Linked DNA regions of Homo sapiens. The protein of the gene in region 1 interacts with the protein of each later gene in a biochemical or structural test. Each region holds a gene or a part of one and is shown in the gene's direction. Other genes may lie near its edges.

What was found. The genes of interacting proteins can lie anywhere in the genome.
Region 2: of the proteins of GSK3B (region 1) and HDAC4, one has a biochemical effect on the other in vitro, tested with the Homo sapiens proteins (one study listed by BioGRID).

The regions. Positions count from the first base shown.
Region 1 is NC_000003.12:120,003,948-120,007,447, reverse strand, and holds part of GSK3B (glycogen synthase kinase-3 beta), read left to right. Parts: intron 1-3,500. UniProt on the Homo sapiens protein: Constitutively active protein kinase that acts as a negative regulator in the hormonal control of glucose homeostasis, Wnt signaling and regulation of transcription factors and microtubules, by phosphorylating and inactivating glycogen synthase (GYS1 or GYS2), EIF2B, CTNNB1/beta-catenin, APC, AXIN1, DPYSL2/CRMP2, JUN, NFATC1/NFATC, MAPT/TAU and MACF1.
Region 2 is NC_000002.12:239,394,521-239,398,020, reverse strand, and holds part of HDAC4 (histone deacetylase 4), read left to right. Parts: intron 1-3,500. UniProt on the Homo sapiens protein: Responsible for the deacetylation of lysine residues on the N-terminal part of the core histones (H2A, H2B, H3 and H4).

The DNA.
Region 1 (3,500 bases):
GCCAGATATCATTTGGTATCAGGATGATGCTAGCCTCATAAAATGAGTTAGGGAGGATTCCCCTTTTTTCTATTGATTGGAACAGTTTCAGAAGGAATGATACCAGCTCCTCTTTGTACCTCTGGTAGAATTCGGCTGTGAATTTGTCTGGTCCTGGACTTTTTTTGGTTGGTAGGCTATTAATTATTGCCTAAATTTCAGAACCTGTTATTGATCTATTCAGAGATTCGACTTCCTGGTTTAGTCTTGGGAGGGTGTATGTGTCCAGGAATTTATCCATTTCTTGTAGATTTTCTAGTTTATTTGCGTAGAGGTGTTTATAGTATTCTCTGATAGTAGTTTGTATTTCTGTGGGATCAGTGGTGATCCCCTTTATCATTTTTTATTGCATCTATTTGATTCTTCTCTCGTTTCTTCTTTATTAGTGTTGCTAATGGTCTATTTTGTTGATCTTTCAAAAAATCAGCTCCTGGATTCATTTATTTTTTTTTTTGAAGGTTTTTTTTCTGTCTCTATCTCTTTCACTTCTGCTCTGATCTTAGTTATTTCTTGTCTTCTGCGAGGTTTTGAATTTGTTTGCTCTTGCTTGTCTAGTTCTTTTAATTGTGATGTTAGGATGTTGATTTAGATCTCTCCTGCTTTCTCTTGTGGGCATTTAGTGCTCTAAGTTTCCCTCTAAACACTGCTTTAAATGTGTTCCAGAGATTCTGGTATGTTGTGTCTTTGTTCTCATTAGTTTCAAATAACTTATTTCTTTCTGTCTTAATTTCGTTATTTACCAAGTAGTCATTCAGGAGCAGGTTGTTCAGTTTCCATGCAGTTGTGTGGTTTTGAATGAGATTCTTAATGCTGAGTTCTAATTTGATTGCACTGTGGTCTGAGAGACAGTTTGTTGTGATTTCTGTTCTTTTACATTTGCTGAGGAGTGCTTTACTTCCAATTATGTGGTCAATTTTAGAATAAGTGGGATGTGGTGCTGAGAAGAATGTATATTCTGTTTATTTGGGGTGCAGAGTTCTGTAGGTGTCTATTAGGTCCGCTTGGTCCAAAGCTGAGTTCAAGTCCTGAGTATCCTTGTTAATTTTCTGTCTCCTTGATCTGTCTAATATTGACAGTGGGGTGTTAAAGTCTCCCATTATTATTGTGTGGGAGTCTCAGTCTCTTTGTAGGTCTCCAAGGACTTGCTTTATGAATCTGGGTGCTCTTGTATTGGGTGCATATATTTTAGGATAGTTAGCTCTTCTTGTTGAATTGATCACTTTACCATTATGTAATGGCCCTCTTTGTCTCTTTTGATCTTCGTTGGTTTAAAGTCTATTTTATCAGAGACCAGGATTTTTTTTTGCTTTCCATTTGCTTGGTAGATCTTTCTCCATCCCTTTATTTTGAGCCTATGTGTGTCTTTGCACGTGAGATGGGTCTCCTGAATACAGCACATTGATGGGTCTTGAGTCTTTATCCAGTTTGCCAGCCTGTGTCTTTTAATTGGGGAATTTAGCCCATTTACATTTAAGGTTAATATTGTTATATGTGAATTTGATCCTGTCATTATGATGCTAGCTGGTTATTTTGCCCATTAATTGATGCAATTTCTTCTTAGCATCGATGGTCTTTATAATTTGGCATGTTTTTGCAATGGCTGCTACCGGTTGTTGCTATCCATGTTTAGTGCTTCCTTCAGGAGCTCTTGTAAGGCAGGCCTGGTGGTGACAAAATCTCTCAGCATTTGCTTGTCCGTAAAGGATTTTATTTCTCCTTCACTTATGAAGCTTAGTTTGGCGGGATATGAAATTCTGGGTTGAAAATTCTTTTCTTTAAGAATGTTGAATATTTTCCCCCTACTCTCTTCTGGCTTGTAGAGTTTCTGCCGAGAGATCTGCTGTTAGTCTGATGGCCTTCCCTTTGTGGGTAACCCAACCTTTCTCTGGCTGCCCTTAACATTTTTTCCTTCATTTAAACCTTGGTGAATCTGACAATTATGTGTCTTGGGGTTGCTCTTCTTGAGGAGTATCTTTGTGGTGGTCTCTGTATTTCCTGAATTTGAATGTTGGCCTGCCTTGCTATGTTGGGGAAGTTCTCCTGGTGAATATCCTTAAGAGTGGTTTCTAACTTGATTCCATTCTCCCCATCACTTTCAGGTACACCATTCAAACGTAGATTTGGTCTTTTCACATAATGCCGTATTTCTTGAAGGCTTTGTTCATTTCTTTTCACTCTTTTTTTTCTAATCTTGTCTTCTCGCTTTATTTCATTAATTTGATCTTCAGTCACTGATATCCTTTCTTCTGCTTGATTGAATCAGCTACTGAAGCTTGTGTATGCTTCACCATGTTCTCATACTCTGGTTTTCAGCTTCATCAGGTCATTTAAGCTCTTCTCTACACTGTTTATTCTAGTTAGCCATTCGTCTAACCTTTTGTCAAGGTTTTTAGCTTCCTTGCAATGGGTTAGAACATACTTCTTTAACTTGGAGAAGTTTGTTATTACTGACCTTCTGAAGCCTACTTCTGTCATCTTGTCAAACTCATTCTGCATCCAGTTTTGTTCCCTTGCTGGCGAGTAGTTGTGTTTCTTTGGAGGAGAAGAGGCGTTATGGTTTTTGGAATTTTCAACCTTTCTGCTGTGGTTTCTCCCCATCTTTGTGGTTTTATCTATCTTTGGTCTTTGATGTTGGTGGCCTACGTATGGGGTTTTGGTGTGGATGTCCTTTGTGTTGATGTTGATGCTGTTCCTTTCTGTTTGTTAGTTTTCCTTCTAACAGTCAGGTACCTTAGCTGCAGGTCTATTGGAGTTTGCTAGAGGTCCACTCCAGACCCTGTTTGCCTGGGTATCACCAGAGGAGGCTGCAGAACAGCAGATATTGCTGCCTGATCCTTCCTCTGGATGCTTCGTCCCAGAGGGGCACCCACCTGTATGAGGTGTCTGTTGGCCATTACTGGGAGATATCTCCCAGTCAGGCTACACAGGGGTCAGGGAACCACTTGGATAACAGTCTGTCCCTTATCGGGAGCTGAAACGCCATGCTGGGAGAACCATTGCTGTCTTCAGAGCTGTCAGGCAGGGACGTTTAAGTCTGCAGAAGCTGTCTGCTGCCTTTTGTTCAGATATGCCCTGCCCCCAGAGGTGGAATCTAGAGAGGCAGTAGGCCTTGCTCAGCTGTGGTGGTCTCTGCCGAGTTTGAGCTTCCCTGCTGCTTTGTTTACACTGTGAGCATAGAACTGCCTACTCAAGCCTCAGCAATGGCAAACGCCCCTCCCCCCACCAAGCTCCCACATCTTAGGTTGATCTCAGACTGCTGTGCTGGCAGCGAACAAGGCTGTGTGGGCGTGGGACCCGCCGAGTCAGGCATGGGAGGGGATCTTCTGGTCTGCCTGTTGCGAAGAGCATTGGGAAAGTGCAGTATTTGGGCAGGAGTGTATCGCTCCTCCAGGTACAGCCACTCATGCCTTCCCTTGGGTAGGAAAGGGAAATCCCCCAACCCTTTGCACTTCCCAGGTGAG
Region 2 (3,500 bases), on another chromosome or scaffold:
AACCGAGACTGAGCCCCTGCCCTGTTGTTGGCAGCCCCCAGTCTGTCCTGGGGTAAGGAGTCGGAAAGGATGGATTTGGAGGGAGTGTTTGTTTTGATTTCAGGTGGTCAGCATATGCCCTGCCGTGTGGTGGGCTCTGGGTTTTTGGCCTTGACGTTAGAGGCGGGTACTGCACCTTCTGGTTCAGGTCAGATGAGGGGTGCCATGTCAAAAGTGATGCTACCTTTGAACAGACCTTAACTCATTCATAAGCGTTTCTGTGGGAACAAGTGTCACTAAGGTCAGTAAGTTCTCTTCATACGGTCAGTTTTCTTCTCTTGGGCTTCTGTGCGTGGGAAGAGTGGGACCTGTTTTGGGGTGGCATGAGGGCCATGGTGCCTGCAGCATTAAATGGCCATGTCCCCTTGCTGCAGCCTCACTGACAAACCTCCTACTCACTTCCTAGAAGGAGGGTCAGGGTCCTACATGTCCCCTTGCTGTGGCCTTGCTGACACACCTCCTACTCACTTCCTGGAAGGAAGGTCGGGGTCCTGCATAGATTGCCCCCACCGTGACTTCCTGTATCACTGTCGGGGGATGAGGATGTATCCTGGAGCAAGGAGATGATGCCACGAGCAGCTGTCACGTGCTCCCGTAGCTGACGCCAGATGAGCACCTGCTTGGGGCTCGTGCTGTTTCATGCACTCACCATGTAGGTGTCAGCACAGTCCTGCAGGTGGGCTCTACCTCTGGAGGAACTGGGGGTAGAATGAAATGGACCATGTGCCACCCCCTGCATCTCCAGTCCCAAAGGCCAGTTCCTCTCCGTGCCTCTGCTTCTAGGCTGGTGGTGACCTTGAAGCTGAAGTTCAGCTTGTCGAGGTGCTTGGGCGAACACAGCCTCTTAGAGAAGAGGACGATTTGGAATACCTTTCTAGTTCAGTGTCGTTAGACTTTCTAGTGCTGTGTTGACTGTTCTTGGCGCTGTTACAGGCGCGTTTCATAGGTCTGGGCAGTACTTCTGGCTTTCTCATGCTGTCTTATGTCACGTGTGGGACTGCAGAACTAGAAGACATCATGTTCTTCTCCTGCAAAGTCCCCAGGACGCCTGGAGGCAGGTGGGGGTGACGGAAGGGAGCTAATGCTCCAAGTCCACTTCAGCCGGAGCAGCTTTTAGTGTTTGTTGTTCGGTCTGTTGATTACCTTGGAAGATTTTATTGGAAGAAAGCATTTGAGGACCAAGTTAATCTACTCTTTCAATACCAACCCAGAAACCTTAAAGAAAATCTTGACAGATTTAATAGGATAAGAGTTTTTTAAAAAATCTCTTTGGCAAAAGACTCCGTCAGCCGGGCTAAGAGACGAGAGAGAAAATACATACCACATTATGCCTGTGTAAGCTTAACAGTCAATATATAAAGAGCTTTTACAGACCAATAAGGAGAGCATGAGATCACCATTGCAAGATGAGCAGAACGTATGAACATTGAATCATTGTGCCAGTGATGAAAGGTTAGCATTACTAATCAATTCAGTGTGAAGGAGATTCCCTTTATGCCTATCATATTGGCGAGTTTGATGATACCTGTTGCTGGTCATAATAATAATTTCTATTTTGTAAGGTTTTTGCAAAGTTTAAGTTAATGTATGGAAATTTCCTTGAATAGGGCCTGGCATGTAGTAAGCATGATATAAATGTTGGCTGTTATTTATTATCATTTGCTCTCTGGAGAGACCCATATGTATTATTATATAAAATATAATAGGGCTGGGCGAGGTACCTTATGCCTGTAATCCCAGAACTTTGGGAGGCCAAGGTGAGAGGATCACTTGAGCCCAGGAGTTCAAGACCAGCCTGGGCAACATAGTGAGACCCTCATCTCTACAAAAAAAAAAAAAAAATCAGGCATGACGTCGTGTGCCTGTAGTCCCCATTACTTGGGAGGCTGTGGCAGGAGAATCACGTGAGCCTGGAAAGTCAAGGTTGCAGTGAGGTGTGATTTTGCCACTGCACTTCAGCCTGAGTGACACAGCGAGACCCTGGGCTGTCCCCCCCAAAAAAGTTTATATATGTAATGTATAAACATAAAATAGTGATTACCGAATTGCTCTCTAGAAAAGTCTTAAGTGTCAAAATCTTAAATGCCATTCTCCTTGTCCCCACAGTTCTACATTTTGAAATCTATTCTAAGGAAAGAAGATAAGTGTGTAGATATCCAGACGTGTGTGGAGGTCGGGGCTGCATTATTTATAAAAGGAGTACTTGTTAAACCTGCTGGCATTTCTGCACTGTGGCATCCTCCATGTGTAGACAGGCAGAAGTGTGCAGTGTAAGAGGGAAAGGCGGGGTCTGGAGCAGTCCCCGGGCCACTCCTGGTTTTAAGTACATGGGTCTCTAAGGTAACCATCAGAGGTGAGGAGACGGGGTACACTTTTCTTTTATACATGGTGGTATTGTAGAGATTCTTTTGGTAAGCGTGTATTACTTTTTTACAGTAGTAATTTGAAAACATTTAGATATCTTCATTGGAAAGAAAAGTACTCTTTAAGTCCTTGGCAAGTTGATAAATATGCTTTGCAATAGAAGAATTTAGGGGCATTTGTTTTTCTAACTCACATGTAAGCTCTTCAAGGTGGGGACTGACCCTCGGGGTCTGAGCGGGCTCTGCTACAGCCCATCCTACAAACAGTCTCCCAGGTTTCCACCAGAAGCAGGTTTGTACCTCTCATTCCCTTGCTTGAAACCCTGGCATGACTTTCCTGTATTCTTAGGATCCTAAGGTCTCAGGGCCCTGGAAGGCCTGCCTGATCCTGGCCTCTGTTTTACCAGCCTCATCTGATAGCACTTGCTGTGTTTGTGGAGTTTCAGCTGCCACCTGCTTTACTTTCTAGCTCTCTCTAAGTCCCCTTTGACCTCGGGGCCTTTGCACACACTGTTCCCCTTCCTTGGAATGGCCTCCCTTTACCTTCCTCTTCTCCAGCCCCTCAGTTCATGCTCATCCTCTCATCCTTTGATCCCCTGTTAAACTTAGCCTAATAGCTTTTTTCCTCCTTTCTAACAGCATCCCATTGTGCAATTTCAGGAAGGAGCTCATTGTGACCTTAGTTGTTTAATGCCACCTTTTCTACTAGCTGGGGCTCTGTAGGATTGAGGGGCCCTGAGGGCCTCATGCCTGCTCTGTACCCTGTGCTTGGCAGTGTAGGTGCTCGAAGAATGAAAGAAAATGAATGAGTGAATGAATGAATGGATGAGTAGGTAGCCCAGTGAATGGCACAATGCGGGCCTTGGGTGGGAGAGCTGGGGTGAGGCCCCACCTCTGGCCTGGCCCCTCTGCGGGGTTCTTGCCAGTGCTCTGGAATTGCCTGTTTCCTGACACCCCCTGCCCCCATCTGGGAACTTCTTGGTCCTGATTTTGGAGATTACATGCTCCTAAGGAGATGTCATAAATGCAAGTGGAGGGAATTCTGTGATGCAGAAAGGAATGGGAGGGAGAAGGGCCTTCAACACAGCTGTCGAGTGG